Linked DNA regions of Homo sapiens: all the other regions are linked to region 3. Evidence: fine-mapped expression QTL. A gene starts in region 3. Each other region holds a variant in brackets. All regions are shown on one strand. Distances are from middle to middle.

Region 1 (4,165 bases), 40 kb after region 3:
GCCCCTCCTCCAACATTGGGGATTACAATTCAACATGAGATGTGGGTGGGAACGCAGAGCCAAACCACAGGCCTTGTAAAGTTAGAGATACTTAAAGAGTCAACTTGAGTATCTTCTCCTAAAATCCTTTCCAGTATTGCTATCATAGCACTTAGTATAGAGAGCAGCTCTTTTAACACAGGTGTTTTTGAGTTTTAAATTACGCATTAATTCAAAGTAAACTAGTGTTAAGAACAAATCAGTAACTTCTGTTCCGACAGTGAAAGAGTGATTGAGACAGATGTTCCCCTTCTGGCATAGACAACTAGAAAACTGACAAAATATACGAAACAACTGTATTCAAATATTAGGACTGTAGGTAGTGTAAAGTGTGATCTCGGAGAGGAGGGAAACAGAGGTGAGCCCTACAATCACTCCAGTTCTTTGTCTGCAGGCAATTTTCGAGTTGTTGTGTAAGGAATCCAAACAGAGCCCAAGAGATCTTGCTGAGTTGAGGAAAGACTGGAGGTGGGGATGGCTACGGCAGTTTGCAATTTGTGAGGCAGAGTATTGAAGAGGAAGAAGCTATGTAAAGAGAGCTCCAGAAATCTGCATACGAGTCCCCTTGAGACTTGGCATGAATACTAATCTGGCATGTATAAGGTGAAACTCACCAAGCCTGGCAAGGAACAATTAATTGACGGGAATCTATAAGCTAAACAATTCCCAAAGCTGACACAGGGCTGGTAAATGTGAGTTCCTAACAGGCAGAGTGGAGAGCCCTTGTTGAAGACTTAGGGTGAGGAGTAAAGACCCTTAGTAGAACGGCTAAAAACAAAGTGTTTTGTTTGTTTGTTTGTTTTTGTGTTTTGAGACGAAGTCTCGCTCTGTCGCCCAGGCTGGAGTGCAATGGTGCAAACTTGGCTCACTGCAACCTCCACCTCCCGAGTTCAAGCGATTCTCCTGCCTCAGCCTCCCGAGTAGCTGGGATTACAGGCATGCGCTGTAGGGTCCAGCCCTATTGGGTCTGTGGGTTTTTCTCCTTGTGTGCAGAGACGAGAGATCGTAGAAATAAAGACACAAGACAAGGAGATAGAAGAAAAGACAGCTGGGCCCAGGGGACTACTACCACCTAAATGCGGAGATGGGTAGTGGCCCCGAATGCATGGCTGCGCTGTTATTTATTGGCTACAAGACAAGTTGGCAGGGTAAGGAGTGTGAGCCATCTCCAATGATAGGTAAGGTCACACGAGTCACCTGTCCACCGGAGAGGGGGCCCTTCCATTTGGTAGCCCAGGCAGAGAGAGAGGGCAGCTTACATCATTATTTCTTCTGTGCATTTCAAAGACTTTAGTCTTCACTGATTCTGCTACTGCTATCTAGAAGGCGGAGCCAGTTGTACAGGGCGGAACATGAAAGCGGGCCAGGAGTGTGACCGCTGAAGCACAGCATCACAGGGAGACGGTCAGGCCTCCGGATAGCTGTGGGTGGGCCTGACTGATGTCAGGCCTTCCACAAGAGGTGGTGGAGCAGAGTCTTGTCTAAATTCCCCAGGGAAAGGGAGACTCCCTTTCCTGGTCTGCTAAGTAACGGGAGCCTTCCCCAGGCACTGACGCTACCGCTAGACCAGGGAGCCCTCTAGTGGCCCTGTCTGGGCATGACAGAGGGCTCACACTCTTGCCTTCTGGTCGCTTCTCACTGTGTCCCTTCAGCTCCTATCTCTGTTTGGCCTGGTTTTTCCTAGGTTATACTGTAAAACAAAGATTATTATAATATTGGAATAAAGAGTAATGCTAGAAACTAATGATTAATGATATTTATATATAATCATATCTGTAATCTATTTCTAGTATAACTATTCTTATTCTATACATTTTCTTTATTATACTGCAACAGCTTGTGCCCTTGGTCTCTTGCCTTGGCACCTGGGTGGCTTCCCGCCCACAGTGCACCACCACACCCGGCTAATTTTTTGTATTTTTAGTACAGACGGGGTTTCACCATCTTGAACTTCATCAGGAGTTCAAGGCCAGGCTGGTCTTGAACTCCTGATCTCAGGTGATCCATCCACCGGGGCCTCCCAAAGTGCTGGGATTGCCTCAGCTCCTTCCCTCCCCCGGCTCAGACAACTTGCCCCTGAGGGCAGGGGCCTGCTGGTTTATTTAAAATGGATGGAGCCCAACAAGTGCAGAGAAGCGCAACCATGCAGGGAGAAAGCACTGTAGCAGGTCGGTGCTCCGCCTCCTCTTGCCACTGACTGCCGACTGAAGGCCACTGGCCTGTGCCTACTAACCAGGCCTCCTAGGTCACCTGGTTACCAGAAACCAATCACTCCTAGAGTTCCTGTCCCAGGCACTTGGCTCACAATGCCCTGTGGCTACCCAAACCGGTGGCTGTCCCCTCCCACAGCAACCCCCCAAGTGGTTGCCCTGCCCCACCATAATTCTGATTTTCCTTCCTTTCTGGCTGCTGGGAGCTTTTAAGTTTCTGCGTTGTTATGAAGTCTCTCTGGATCATCACCTTACAATGGATTATGCTTAAATTACTACTGTAATCAAATCTAAGTCTTGTGCACTACTGGGAATCCAAAAAGCCTCCTCTCCCCAGTGGCCTCTGAGTTTTTTTTGAGA[T/C]GAAGTCTCATTCTGTCGCCCAGGCTGGAGTAAATGGCGTGATCTCGGCTCGCTGCAACCTCCACCTCCCGGGTTCAAGCAGTTCTCTGCCTCAGCCTCCCAAGTAGCTGGGATTACAGACACCTGCCACCACGCCCAGCTAATTTTTGTATTTTTAGTAGAGACAGGGTTTCACCATGTTGGCCAGGCTGGTCTTGAACTCCTGACCTTGAGTTCTACCCACCTTGGCCTCCCAAAGTGCTGGGATTGCAGGCGTGAGCCACTGAGCCCGGCAGCCTCTGGGTTTTTTAGAAACGCAAAAGAACACCGATTTCTGCAGGTGCTTTCAGAAAAAAAATTTGTCATGAGTCAAGTCTACTCTGTGATGTCAACTTATATTTTTAATGTGTATATATATATATATATATACTATATAAATTCTTACATATTTCTGAAAATATCACACACATTAAATCAAACAGAAGAGTAATAGGAAATTTCCTAAAATGTGTACACTAAGAACATATATATATATATATATTTTGAGACGGAGTTTCACTCTTGTTGCCCAGGCTGGAGTGCAATGGGGCAATCTCGGCTCAACGCAACCTCCACCTCCCAGGTTCAAGAGATTCTCCTGCCTCAGCCTCCCGAGTAGCTGGGATTACAGGCATGCGCCACCACACCAGGCTAATTTTGTATTTTTAGTAGAGACAGGGTTTCTCCATGTCAGTCAGGCTGGTCTCGAACTCCCGACCTCAGGTGATCTGCCCGCCTCAACCTCCCAAAGTGTTGGGATTACAGGCATGAGCCACCGTGCCCGGCCGAACGTCACATATTTCTAATGATTGCTTTGATAGAGCAACTTAGAATCTATGGTTCCAACAAATAAGGAGGCTTATGTAAAGTAAAACCACTACATAATGTGAGATTATACATGTGATTATCATTGCTACTTGCGACCAGCAATTATCATGTGAATGTGTACCGTGAGTTGCTATGTGGCTATGGTGATTTCATCTTTCTGATCCTTGATTTAACTATAAAAAAATGATTACCACAGACTTTGTTTGCTCTAAAAATTAAATGAGAGAAGGATGATACTCTTCTATGTATTAAACACAAAATTACAGGCATTTTGCCCAGATTCGTACACAATTATCTTGTTTAAGCCTCATAACAACTTGAAAAAGGCATCTTTTATAGATGAGAAAAGCGAAGATCAGAGGGGTTAAAAACATATCCACAATCACATAATGATGAATGATGGAATTGGGATTCAAATCCAGGTCTGATGGACTCCACAGCTGGTGCATCTTAAGAACCAAATTATATCCCACCCATGTAGGCACTCAATAGATGTGAATTCCCTTTTATTACCCTATTATGTGTGAATGTCAGTGCCTTTCATGGCCTCAGTATAACCGTTCACTCCCTCCCAGGTTGCCTGTCAGTGGTTTCCTTCTTCCTGGAGATAATCAAGAATTATTAATTATTTTAAGTATTTTTAAGTATTAAGTATTTTTTCATAAGCAGATGTGCTGATAATGTAAGGCTTGGGTAATGAAATTTTCCAG
Region 2 (4,165 bases), 23 kb after region 3:
TAGCTGGGACTACAGGTGCATTCCAGCATGCTGGTGTTATGCTTCCTTTATTCTCCATATTTAATTCATCTTTTATTCCTCAACAGTATTCAGCAACTTCTTTTCAGAAACTATTGATTTTTGGCCAGGTGCAGTGGCTCACATCTGTAATCCCAGCACTTTGGGAGGCTGAGGCAGGAGGATCACTTAAGCCCAGGAGTTCAAGAGTTCAAGACCAGCCTGGGCAACATAGTGAGGCCTTATCTGTATAAATTTTGTTTTAAAAAAGAAATTATTGCCAGTCTCAGCCACAATGAAGGAAACCTAGGAAAGGATGTGACCCTACTTGAGCCACAATTTAGAAGGGCATGTCCACCCCACAATCCTCTGAGGTTCCCAATGGCTGGACTGTAATACTTCCCTAGGCTTTCGGTGTAATACTAAGTTTGTTCTACTCTACTAGATATTTTCTTGTCATACGCTCAACTTCAGGCCTCCTTTGGAGGGAGGCTTAAGGGAACATTGGCAGATTCCAACGTATTTAAATAATTAACATGACATTCCTAGCTATTGTTTTATTCATTGATGAATTTTGGAATGTCATTACAAATTGTAAATTTGGACCTAGATGCTGATTGCTTATTTTCAGAAAACCTACAGAATAACCTCAGTAATAAAAACAAAGTGGGCCACGCCTGTAATCCCAGCACTTTAGGAGGCCGAGGCGGGCGGATCACGAGGTTAGGCGACCTAGACCATCCTGGCTAACATGGTGATACCCCGCATCTAGTAAAAAAAATATAAAAAATTAGCCAGGCGTGGTGGCACACGCCTGTAGTCCCAGCTACTCGGGAGGCTGAGGCAGGAGAATCGTTTGAACCCGGGAGGCAGAGGTTGCAGTGAGCCAAGATCGCACCACTGCACTCTAGCTCTGGGTGACAGAGCAAGACTCCATCTCAAAAACAAACAAAAAAACAACAAAGAAATGGGCCCTGCGTAGTGGCTCACGCCTGTATCCCAGCACTTTGAGAGGACAAGGTAGGTGGGTCACCTGAGGTCAGGAGTTCAAAACCAGCCTGACCAACGTGGTAAAAATACAAAATTACTACTAAAAATACAAAAATTAGCTGGGCATAGTGGCAGGCACCTGTAATCCCAGCTACTCAGGAGGCTGAGGCAGGAGAATCACTTGAACCCAGGAGATGAAGGTTGCAGTGAGCTGAGATCACGCCACTGCACTCCAGCCTGGGCGACAGAGTGAGACTGTCTCAAAACAAACAAACAAACAAGCAAAAAAAAAAAAAAAAAGAAACCCGAAAAACAAAGAAGCCTAAAAACTCAGGGTAAGTGTAGAGCTTGGGACTCTGCTAAGACTCAACAGTGCCCTAGAGGATAGCCATTCAGTATTATCATAAATCCTCAAGTCTTCCATTTTGCCATCCTTAAAACAACTGTTTCTGAGCACAGGGACACTGGCACATGAATGAACGAATGACTTCAGTTTGTCCTCAACTGTCTTGCCAATCAGGCCAACCTTAAAGCTACAGAAGGAGATTGTCCTGAATTTCCCTGAGAGCCAACGGCACTAACAACTGTTAAACCAGAAGAATAAAAACCCAAATATTGGCACACACTCCCCAAACATGTTGTCCAGCAGTTGAAAGCCAAGGACAGGAACAGGCAATGCCTGCCAGCTGTTCCAGGGGAAAGGGTCCAAACTGATCTTAGACTCAGCTTTGCTTGAGTTCAGCCCGAATTGCTGGAGAAGATCCACCAACCTTCCAGTGGCCTAAGATTGATCCAAAACTGGCAGTCACCGTTCCCCAAAGGTGATACTATTATTTCAGCTCTCACAAGAAAACCCATGTAACTGGAAGATGAAGAACAAAAATCAGGATAACACAAGATTCTGATTGTCTTGTCTAATGTACAGGATTTGGAATCAGGCTTCTATATATGGAAACCATGTGTGTCTAGAGCCTTAAGTTTCATGCAAATTCCTGTAAAATGATCACTGATCAGATCATCTGTAAAAATGTGGAATCTGGATTAGACGATCTCTCAGGCCACTTCCAGCTCGAAACTCTGACTTGCTATCTCTATATTCTTATAGGGTTTTCTTGCTCACTAAGTTTTTAGGAAAATAATAACTGAGAAAATAAAAATTTAATACAGTCATACAGTCATCTCAGGATACATTCTGAGAAAATCATTGAGTGTACTTACACAAATCTATATAGTATAGCCTACTATACACCTAGGCTATCAGGTAAGGCCTTGATATGGTTTGGCTGTGTCCCCACCCAAATCTCATCCAAATCTCATCTTGAATTGTAGCTCCCATAATCCCCACGTGTCATGGGAGGGACCTGGTGGGAGGTAATTGAATCATAGGGGGAGTTTTTCCCATACAGTTCTCACGACAGTGAATAAG[T/A]CTGCACGTGCTTTCTTGCCTGCCACCATGAAGATGTGCCTTTGCTCCTCCTTCACCTTCCACCACGATTGTGAGGCCTCCCCAGCCATGTGAAACTGGATCCATTAAACCTCTTTTTCTTTAAAAATTACCCAGTCTTGGGTATTTCTTCATAGCAGTATGAAAATAGACCAATACAGGCCTATTGCTCCTAGGCTACAAACCTGTACAGCATGTTACTGTACTGAATAGTGTAAGGAAATCATCACACAATGGTAAGTATTTGTGATAGAAATTTTTCAGCTCTATTGTAACCTTAGGGGATCACTGTCGTCTATGAGGTCCATCATTGACTGAAACTGTTATGCAGTGCTTAACTGTATTATGTGACAAAATGTGTATAAGTAATTTTATTTAATTAAGAGTAGAAGCTCTCCCGCAGTGTTCTCATATACTCTAAACTCTAAAATTATCATTCTACTCAGTATTGCTGATCTCTTCATTGAGCTTGTAAACAAACACCTACACAGAACAGAACTAATTAATTTTAATCTAAATCCATTTTCTTTTGTACAAAGGAGGCTTTTTCCCCAAGATTTGTTTCAATCCTTTAGCCTAAAATGATAACGCCCTATATTTACCTAGCGATGTTAACTTTTCAAAGTCCGTTCTTTTCTACCATCTCTCTAGAATGTAGGCTCCTAAGAGTACTACTGTCTTCTGGACAATGTCCAGCACACAGAAGGTGCTCAGTGAGTCCCAGCTGAAGAAAGTGAATATGATGCTCACAAGAACTCCCTGGGTAGACAACGGTCTCATCACTAACCCCTTACTTGACAGATTTAGGTACGGAGGCACGGGAGCCAGATGAGGACATTAACCAAAGATACCCACATGCCAGATATTAGTTTGGATTGGATTTTTTTTTTTTTTTTTTTTTAAGACAGAGTCTTGCTCTGTAACCCAGGCTAGAGTACAGTGGCATGATCTCGGCTCACTGCAACCTCCACCTCCTGGGTTCAAGCAGTTCTCTGCCTCAGCCTCCCAAGTAGCTGAGATTACAGGCTTCGGCCACCAGTCCCGGCTAATTTTTTTGCATTTTTAGTAGAGATGGGGTTTCACCAAGTTGGCCAGGCTGGTCTTGAACTCCTGACCTCGTGATCGACCAGCCTCGGCCTCCCAAAGTGCTGGGATTACAAGCATGAGCTACTGTGCCCGGCCGATTGGATCATTATTTTTAAAAAAATCTATAAAAGATGGTCATGGGGGCCGGGCGCGGTGGCTCATGCCTGTAATCCCAGCACTCTGGGAGGCTGAGGCAGGCAGATCACTTGAGGTCAGGAGTTTGAGACCAGCCTGGCCAACATGGTGAAACCCCGTCTCTACAAAAAATACAAAAATTAGCCGGGCCTGGTGGCAGTCACCTATAATCCCAGCTACTCAGGAGGCTGAAGTAGGAGAATCACTTGAACCCGGGAGGCAGAGGTTGCAGTGAGCCGAGATTGTGCCGCTGCACTCCAGCCTGGGGGACAGAGTGAGACTCTGCCTCCAAAAATAAAAAAAAGATCATGGGATAATTGGGGGTATGTTAATATTGAATTGCCCATTCTATGTTATTAGATATCATGAAACTATTATTGTTATTATTTATTTTTATTTTTGTAGAGATGTGGTCTTGCTGTGTTGCCCAAGCTAGTCTTGAACTCCTGACCTCAAGTGATCCTCCCACCTTGGCCTCCTAAAGTGCTAGGATTACAGGCATGAGCCACTGCG
Region 3 (4,165 bases):
AATTTGAGTATTTAAAAAAGGAAAGATGGCACTCCAGGATGAAGGACATGAGCAAAGAAACATCAGAGTGGAAACATCTCTTCCACAGAATGAGTCCAGGATTGATGACGATTCTGGAATAGCAAAAGCATAAAATTTGTTAACATATGAGGATAGACAGTAGCATATACTTATTGTAGAGACCTTTGAGCTAACCGAGGGAAGTTACACTTCATTCTGGGAAGAAAGAAAAGTCCCTGAAAATATTAAAGGTAGGCGTGAAAGACACAACGTTTTGCTTCCTCTTAAAATATATCTGTACCAGCCGGGCGCGGTGGCTCACGCCTGTAATCCCAGCACTCTGGGAGGCCAAGGCGGGCGGATCACGAGGTCAGAAGTTCAAGACCAGCCTGGCCAATATGGTGAAACCCCGTCTCTACTAAAAATACAAAAATTAGCCGGGTGTGGTGGCGTGCGCCTGTAATCCCAGCTACTCAGGAGGCTGAGGCAGGAGAATCGCTTGAACCTGGGAGACGGAGGTTGCAGTGAGCCAAGATTGTGCCACTGCACTCCAGCCTGGGCAACAGAGCAAGACCCCGTCTCAAAAAAAAAAAAAGATGTATCTGTACCTATGAAAAAGGAGAAGCATAAAAAGAAAACAAAAGTCTCAAAACTGATGTATAACGATCTTTTTTATTTTATTTTAGCAACAGGTTCTCGCTCTGTCACACAGGCTGAGTGCAGCGGCGCGATCCTAGCTCACTGCAACCCTCGAACTCTCAGTTTGAGGCTGAAGCTCAAACGTTCCCCCCGCCTCAGCCTCCCAAGTAGGCGCGCGACTAGAGGCGCCACCAATTCCCGGTTGACATGATGTTTTAAAAATTTTTTCAAGATAATTATTGTTGTTTGCAAACTCGTGACAGCTTGGTAGTATGTTACTGAAGGATCAGGATCCAAAAATCACAGTACAGAGACAACGTAGACTTCCCATAGCGCTTGGCACACTTAAAACATCCCTTCAAGTATTAACCTTAACTGGGCTTGTCATCCCAGGTCAAATCCTCCGAAATAAGTAAACCACTCTAATTTCTTCTCTCCTAAGAGACTCTATCAGTGAAAGCTCACAAAAAAACAGTTTAAAAAAAAAAAAGGGGGGGTCTCGCCATGTTGCTCAGGCTGGTCTCAAACTCCTGGGTTCAAGCGATCCTCCCGCCTCAGCCTCTCAAAGTGCTGGGATTACAGACAGGAGCCACTGCGCCCAGCCAAAGACAGTTCTTAAAATCTACAGGTTCTTTAGGATATTCTGAGAATAAATATCGTTTAGGATTTCCCCAAAGGATTTACGTTTTGTTCTATGAAGAACCCAGTTCTTCCAAAAATTTCTACAACTGACGATTTGGAAATAAAAATAACGCTCATCTCATAAAACTTTGCACACAGATAGTATGAACCTCGTAAGCTTTGAGAACAAAATTTCCCCATCTCTCAAAACAAAACACCCAAACCAAAACAGTCAACCAGTGGCAAAAGAAACCGTCCTGTTTCCCAGGTAGGAAAAAGGAAGGCAAAGCACCCCAAGATGTGCTTTTATTTTAAATCTCCTTGATCTGACCAATCGGGTGAGCTGGAACCTCACGGCTGAGCCCCGAGTCCAACTTCTTCCCCGCCAGGACTACTCACTGTGGCCAGGCCCAAGCGCATGTGGAACACACGCCAACACAGGACAGGCTCAGCACGCCGGCCGCTTCCCTCGGGGAAAGGCCCGCCAACGAGTCCATCGCGTGGGAGAACAGTGGGAAAGGGTCGCGGCCCCGGCCGTCCGTAAAGGGACCCGACTGCCGGCGCAGGACGCGAACCACCAGCGCCGCTCCGCCGCCATGTGCCGCCGCTCCTCCGGTCCGAGATTATGTAACGAAGCCCGGCGCCCGCGAGCCTGCCGTACCCGCCACCGCCACCGCTCGCCCCCTCGAGCCCCATCCGTTGGCCCCGCGCACGCCCGGCCTAGGCCCGGCGCTCGCGGGGCAGAAGCCCCGCCGCCGCCGCCGCCGCCGCCGCCGCCGCCGCGGGTCCAGGCCGCGCGACCCGCCCTCCGCCGCGCGGGCCCAACCCCCTCCCTCCCTTCCCCCTACCTGAACGGGGCGGGTGAGCGCGCCGCCGCGGGCCGAGTCCACCGGGTCGCCAGGCCAGGCGCGAGCTCCTCCCGTGCGGGTCCGTCACAGCATCTCCCGGGAGACGTGGCCGCCACGGGCCGGGCTCACACCCCTCCGCCCGGCTGAAGCCGCTCCTCTGCGCTCCGGCCGCCGCCTGCGACCTCCCCGGCCACCTCAGAGCCACACGCCCCCGAGAGTGCCTTCGCGGGCTGTAGGCCTGCAGACCGCTCAGCGGCTAAAACGCAGTCGCTGCTCCCGCCGCGCTTCTGGGTCCTTCCCCTTGCAACGCTGCCTGCTCGCCTCGGACAGCGCCGGCCCCGCTCTGCGCATTACCCTGCGCCGACAAAACCGAGTTCCACACGCCCCGGAAGGGAGGGAGCAGAGGAAAGGGCGGAGAGGGAGGGGAGAACCGGCGGGAGATCGCGGCTGCAGGGACCAGAGTTCTCGCGATGGTTCCGCGCTCTAGCGCCGGCTCCGCGGGAATTTTCAAACTCTCGGTGAAAGAAGGAGGTGGGAGGGAAAGGGAGGAAAGAGAAGCAGGGCCTGGAAGGGCGGATCATTTACAAAAAAATCGGGTCTCTCCGCCTCCGAGGAGCTGGTGGGGAGAAAGACTACGAGTCCCACAGTGCCTTGCGCGTGAAGCCGCCCTGGCGGCCCCGGCGGCGCGCCCCGTGCGCAGTTGGGAGTGGTAGTCTTCGCTGGGGGTCGCGCCGGGCTCTGCCAGCCGCCTGCTGCGATTGCAGGCGGACTCTCTTGTCACGTAATCGTGTGGCCCTGCCAGCTGGGGGCCGAGTGATAATCTTTCTCCCATAATTGGCAGCTTGCATTCTGTATTTTCTGTTCTGTGCTCCCACTTTTCTTTTTTTCTTTTTCTTTTTTTTGGAGACGGAGTCTTGCTCTGTTGCCCAGGCTGGAGTGCTGTGGCACGATCTTGGCTCACTACAACCTGTGCTCCCGCTTTTCATGCCAAAGGTGGGCTCCCAGACTTCTGGGGAAACGCTTTTTCCACGGTGCTGTTTTTTCTAGCATCCTCCTGTGCTTTCATGGCCAAAAATGCTCGCGCAGCCTAGCCTAATCTTTTTAGTCAAAATTTTACCCCAAATCACTGTTATCTTTTTGGTCACCGCGGGTTTTCATTGTGGAATTTCTTATTTCTTGTTAGTATCTTCCTTTGAAGCAAATCCCAGCGCCAAACATGTTTCAAACAGATAGGGAACGTATCCTTAATACTAAGTAGTAAGTAAAAGGATTATAACATGAGGTAGAGTAGGGATTTTAAGAAGATGCTCTTTTATCAGGAAAGTTTCTACTTTTCTGTTACCTTTCATATGTGCTTTTTAAATTTTTTTATTTTTGAGACAGTGTCTCGCTCTGTCGCCCAGGCTGGAGTGCAGTGGTGTAATCAAGGCTCACAGCAGCCTCGAACTCGTGGGCTCAAATGATCCTCCTACCTCAGCCCTCCAAGTAGCTGGGACTATGGGCATGGACCACCATGCGCCACTACGTCCCATTAATTTTTTTATTTTATTTATTTATTTATTTATTTATTTATTTGAGACGGAGTCTCGCTCTGTCACCAGGCTGGAGTGCAGTGGCACAATCTCGGCTCACTGCAACCTCCGCCTCCCAGGTTCAAGAGGTTCTCCTGTCTCAGCCTCCAGAGTAGCTAGGACTACAGGTGTGCGCCACCATGCCCAGCTGATTTTTGTATTTTTAGTAGAGACAGGGTTTCACCATGTTGGCCAGGATGGTCTTGAACTCTTGACCTCGTGATCCACCTGCCTCAGCCTCCCAAAGTGCTGGGATTATAGGCGTGAGCCACCGCGCCCGGCCTTATTTTTTATTTTTTGTAGAGACTGTCTCACTGTGTTACCCAAGCTGGTCTCTACTCCTGGGCTCAAGAGATCCTCCTGCCTCAGCCTCTCAACGTGCTGGGATTACAGACATGAGCCACCATGCCCAGCCTATTTTTATTTTTGTAGAGACTGTGTCTTGCTGTGTTGCTCAGACTGGAGTGCATGGCTATTCGCAGGCAC
Region 4 (4,165 bases), 100 kb before region 3:
CACTTGTTTTAAGATTTTATCACTGGATTAGAGCAATTTAATTAAAATGAGACTTACTGTGATTTTCCTTATTCTACTTAGGACTTATTGCTCTTCTTAGACCTGTGGGTTTATAGTTTCCATCAAATTTGGGAAAATTTCAGCCATCATTCCTTCAAGTATTTTTTGCACACACGCCCCTCCCATTCTTTCTGTGACTCCAATTACATGTAGAGTAAGATTGTCCCACATGTCACTGAGGCTCTGTTCATTTCCTCCCCATAACTTTTTCTGACTGTTTCTCCTTGTCTGTCAAAATTCAGCCTAAACATCATACCCTTTATTAAACCATTCACCAGATATCCTGTCTAGATTGAATGACCACCTCACCTTTGTACCCCACTGTATCCCATACATCTTATCACAGAGCCTGTAACATCTGAGTGTACTTTTTTCCTGTCTCCCCAAACCAAATTGTGAGCAACTTTCAGGCAGAACAGTGCATGGCATATGATAAATGCTCATTAAAACAGAAGTTCTCAGATGCTAAGTGCCTCATACAGTTTGCTTATTTTGCTTATCTCAAGGAAGCAAAATATAATTGACTTGACTGTCATACCTTTTTCAGTGTGTCAATACATTGGCAAATGAACTGATTTGAGTATCTAAAAATTACTTAGGCCATAGCTGTGTTTTTGGACCTCACGTTCAGCATAGAAAAGGAGTAAATTTAAAGTGAAATTCTCATATGGAAACATAGATTTATGCTTGCATAAAATTATTATACTTTCACACTGTGAACACATCATCAAAAACAAAACAACAAAAAACTGGCATTGAAGCTGTGTTTTAAAGCAACTTACCTGGCCTGCAAATTTACGACTAGGATCAGCTGAAATAAGGACACCATCCTTATCCCTTTGAAATCCATTGTGAGACCAATATGCCAGGTCAAAAGTAAATGTCTTCACATGCTCTGGATTCTTAGGGTCCTGTGTAGTGGTGGTAGTTCTGGAATGCATGGAAATCACACATTTGCTCCCAGAATTCTTCTCTCTCTACAGTCAAATTACAAATTCGGAGTCAATCATTCCAGTTTCTCTTTGTTATCCAAGTTCATTGTTTTGCAAGTCTTTATACCTAGTAAGAAATTAAGCCAAGAACTTACCCTTCCCTCAGTTTGTTCTCTAATTGTGTTACTTTTAGCAGCTATTATGACAAGCAGTTGTTCCTGTACTCCCTCGGAATTTTTGAAAGGCTTGTCTCTAGTCACATTAACTTTCTGAGAAGAGCTGGCTCTCTAACACCCAGGTATACTAATAACAATAACTACAGTAGTGGAGATACTGACTTCCTGCATAACTGGTGAACTCCCCAGTAAAACTAGTGAAAAATTATCCATTAAAAAATGAAAATGAAGAAAAAAAAACACTTTTTAATGGTCCTAAGGACAAACAGCACATGAAGAAACATCTATTCATGGCCGGGCGCGGTGGCTCACACCTGTAGTCCCAGCACTTTGGGAGGCTAAGGCGGGCGGATGACTTGAGGTCAGGAGTTTGAGACCAGCCTGGCCAACATGGTGAAACCCCGTCTCTACTAAAAATACAAAAATTATGTGTGTGTGATGGCAGGTGCCTGTAATCCCAGCTACTCAGGAGGCTACGGCATAAGAATAGCTTGAACTTGGGAGGTGGAGGCTGTAGTGAGCTGAGATTGCACCACGGCACTCCAGCCTGGGCGACAGAGTGAGACTGTCTCAAAAAGAAAAAAAAAAGCATCTATTCAAGAAAATGTACTAAAATTTGGTAAGAAAAGAGTTTGTGGTATTTGAAGCAAGATCATTCCTTTCCTTTCCCTGCCAGCTCA[G/A]GAAGGTGGAGATTCCACTCTGGACAGCTAGAGCCAGTAACACAGGGTTCTGTCTCTGCTCCAGATCGCAGCTGGAGGACTTTCTTCCAGGAAGATCAAGATATTAGCATTTCTCATTCTGCCTCTCTCTACCTGTTAGTGAGGCCAAGTGTCAGGTTAATTGGGGGTCTCCCTTTCACACCCAGCTCTCACTCGAGGAATGGAGGCTCTATTTTGGTTGCAGCATGCTGAGCTTACTGGAGTACTTACCACTTTTGCCCTGGGTCCTGAGAGGGTTCAACACCAGGAGAGACAAGCTGAGAGGACCTTAGGCTAGGACCCCACCTCCACTGAGGACTCAGCTCCTAGAGCAGGTGTCATCTGAAGAGCAATTGACTATTGTTCACACATCCAATTCCAGAGCTCTGGCTTAGAGATTTTGCCTGGGGGATAATTAGGCCATACAACCCATGGTGCCTAACATCTCTTCCTAAAGGAACTGACTTCATTTGTAACAGATTGGGGAAGTTCAAGCCTAAGGATGCCCTCGAGAATGGTGGAGGTTGTGATGAAAGACAACTGAGAAAAGAGTCAAATACAAGTAAAAGTGTATGCCCTCTAATTTGTGGGGATGAACTGGAGAATAAGATAGCTGGAAGGTCAAAAAATATCAAACACTGGTTTTAGAAACGATTCCCTGCAAAGGAAGCAGAATTTGATCAGATTCACTTGTAAAGCAATTTATACCCCAGGACATTGTTGAAAACAATAATCAGCCAGCAAATAGTGAAGTTTAACAGCTGGGCATGGGCAAGGAAAGACAGGAAGGGGGCCCTACCAAAACCATTGTTCTCCCAGCGTGACTGGGGCAGACCCAAAACTGTGCTTCCCTAAGGAACAACGGTGGGGGCTGGGGGACATAATAGACTTTACTAAAATAATTCAGCCAGTCACTAAACAAACTGGCAAATGAAAGTAACAAGCCACAGAGGAGACGCAGAGCTAGGAGCTGCTACAATATATCTACAATGTCCAGTTTCTAAGAAAAAATTAGGAGGCACGCAAAGTAACAGGAAAGTATGATCCATACACTGAGGAAGAAACAGGTAACAAAAACAGAGTGAGCAGATGCAGGATTTATCAGAAAAATACTTTTAAAGTAGTCATTATGAATATATTCACAGAATGAAAGAAAACTATGATTAAAGAAAGGATTATAAAGGAATACTTTGAACAAATAAATACCAACAAATTAGATAACTTAGATGAAATAAATTCCTACAAAGGCAGAAATAACAGAAATTGACTCAAGAAAAAAATCTAAATAGACCTAGAACAAGGGAAGACATAGAAGTAGAAATGCTGGCCGGGCGCGGTGGCTCACGCCTGTAATCCCAGCACTGTGGGAGGCCGAGGCGGGTGGATCACGAGGTCAGGAGATCGAGACCATCCTGGCTAACATGGTAAAACCCCATCTCTACCAAAAATAGAAAAAATTAGCCAGGCGTGGTGGCAGGTGCCTTTAGTCCCAGTTACTTGGGAGGCTGAGGCAGGAGAATGGCCTGAACCCAGGAGGCAGAGCTTGCAGTGAGCCAAGATTGTGCCACTGCACTCCAGCCTGGGCGACAGAGTGAGACTCTGTCTCAGAAAAACAAAAACAAACAAAAAACTACATGCCGGGCACGGTGGCTCACACGTGTAATCCCAGCACTTTGGGAGGCTGAGGGAGGTGGATCATGAGGTCAGGAGTTCGAGACCAGCCTGACCAACATGGTGAAACTGTGTCTCCACTAAAAATACAAAAATTAGCCGGGCGTGGTGGTGGGTGCCTGTAATCCCAGCTACTCAAGAAGCTGAGGCATGAGAATTGCTTGAACCCAGGAGGTGGAGGTTGCAGTGAGCTGACGCTGCGCCACTGCACTCCAGCCTGGGTGACAGAGTGAGACTGCGTCTCAAAAAGAAAAAACACAATTACAAACCATTATCTCTTATGATTATGCGTGCAAAAATCCTCAACAAAATACTATGAAACTAAATCCAGCAATGTATAAAAAGAATTGCATACCACGACCAAATGGAATTTATCCTAGGGCTTCAAAGTTGGTTCAACAACGGAAATTATTGTATTAATCGTATTTTAAAATTTTCTGTATATATGAAAAAATATATACATATGTATAGAAGCTTTGAGACATTTGCTTCCCCACATTACCAATCATGATTATGTCATAATTATGAGTAGCTGTCTTTTTTTTTTTTTTTTTTTTTTGAGACTGAGTCTCGCTCTGTCACCCAGACTGGAGTGCAGTGGCATGACCTCGGCTCACTGCAAGCTCCG

Direction of the effects. Alleles are on the strand shown, and positions count from the first base shown. SD is a standard deviation of normalised expression in the study named. Not every link is listed here.
For the expression in whole blood of the gene that starts at base 2,479 in region 3, T is the high allele of the variant in region 2 and A is the other (moderate effect, 0.59 SD a copy in Lepik 2017).

What was found. PIP is the estimated chance that this variant, and not a neighbour inherited with it, causes the effect. A credible set is the group of variants that fine-mapping cannot tell apart.
Region 1: its variant is the best candidate, but not a certain one, in a credible set for the expression of AHCTF1 in whole blood (GTEx, PIP 0.76).
Region 2: its variant is the best candidate, but not a certain one, in a credible set for the expression of AHCTF1 in whole blood (Lepik 2017, PIP 0.57).
Region 4: its variant is the best candidate, but not a certain one, in a credible set for the expression of AHCTF1 in blood mononuclear cells (TOPMed, PIP 0.54).

Annotation. Positions count from the first base shown.
Region 1 is chr1:246,969,935-246,974,099 of GRCh38, forward strand. All of the region lies in intron 5 of ZNF670-ZNF695 (ZNF670-ZNF695 readthrough (NMD candidate)), which reads right to left. It also overlaps a transcript of ZNF695 not described here. Among named protein-coding and RNA genes, the nearest start is that of ZNF695, 36 kb to the right of the region's middle. The variant T/C (reference allele first, on the strand shown) is at 2,610.
Region 2 is chr1:246,952,675-246,956,839 of GRCh38, forward strand. All of the region lies in intron 6 of ZNF670-ZNF695 (ZNF670-ZNF695 readthrough (NMD candidate)), which reads right to left. It also overlaps a transcript of ZNF695 not described here. Among named protein-coding and RNA genes, the nearest start is that of AHCTF1, 23 kb to the left of the region's middle. The variant T/A (reference allele first, on the strand shown) is at 2,414.
Region 3 is chr1:246,929,470-246,933,634 of GRCh38, forward strand. AHCTF1 (AT-hook containing transcription factor 1) reads right to left here and starts at 2,479. Exons shown (of 36, transcript NM_001323342.2): 1 at 2,109-2,479. RefSeq lists enhancers at 1,602-1,691, 2,812-2,861 and a silencer at 2,032-2,131.
Region 4 is chr1:246,829,059-246,833,223 of GRCh38, forward strand. No RefSeq gene overlaps it. Among named protein-coding and RNA genes, the nearest start is that of LINC01341, 42 kb to the left of the region's middle. The variant G/A (reference allele first, on the strand shown) is at 1,849.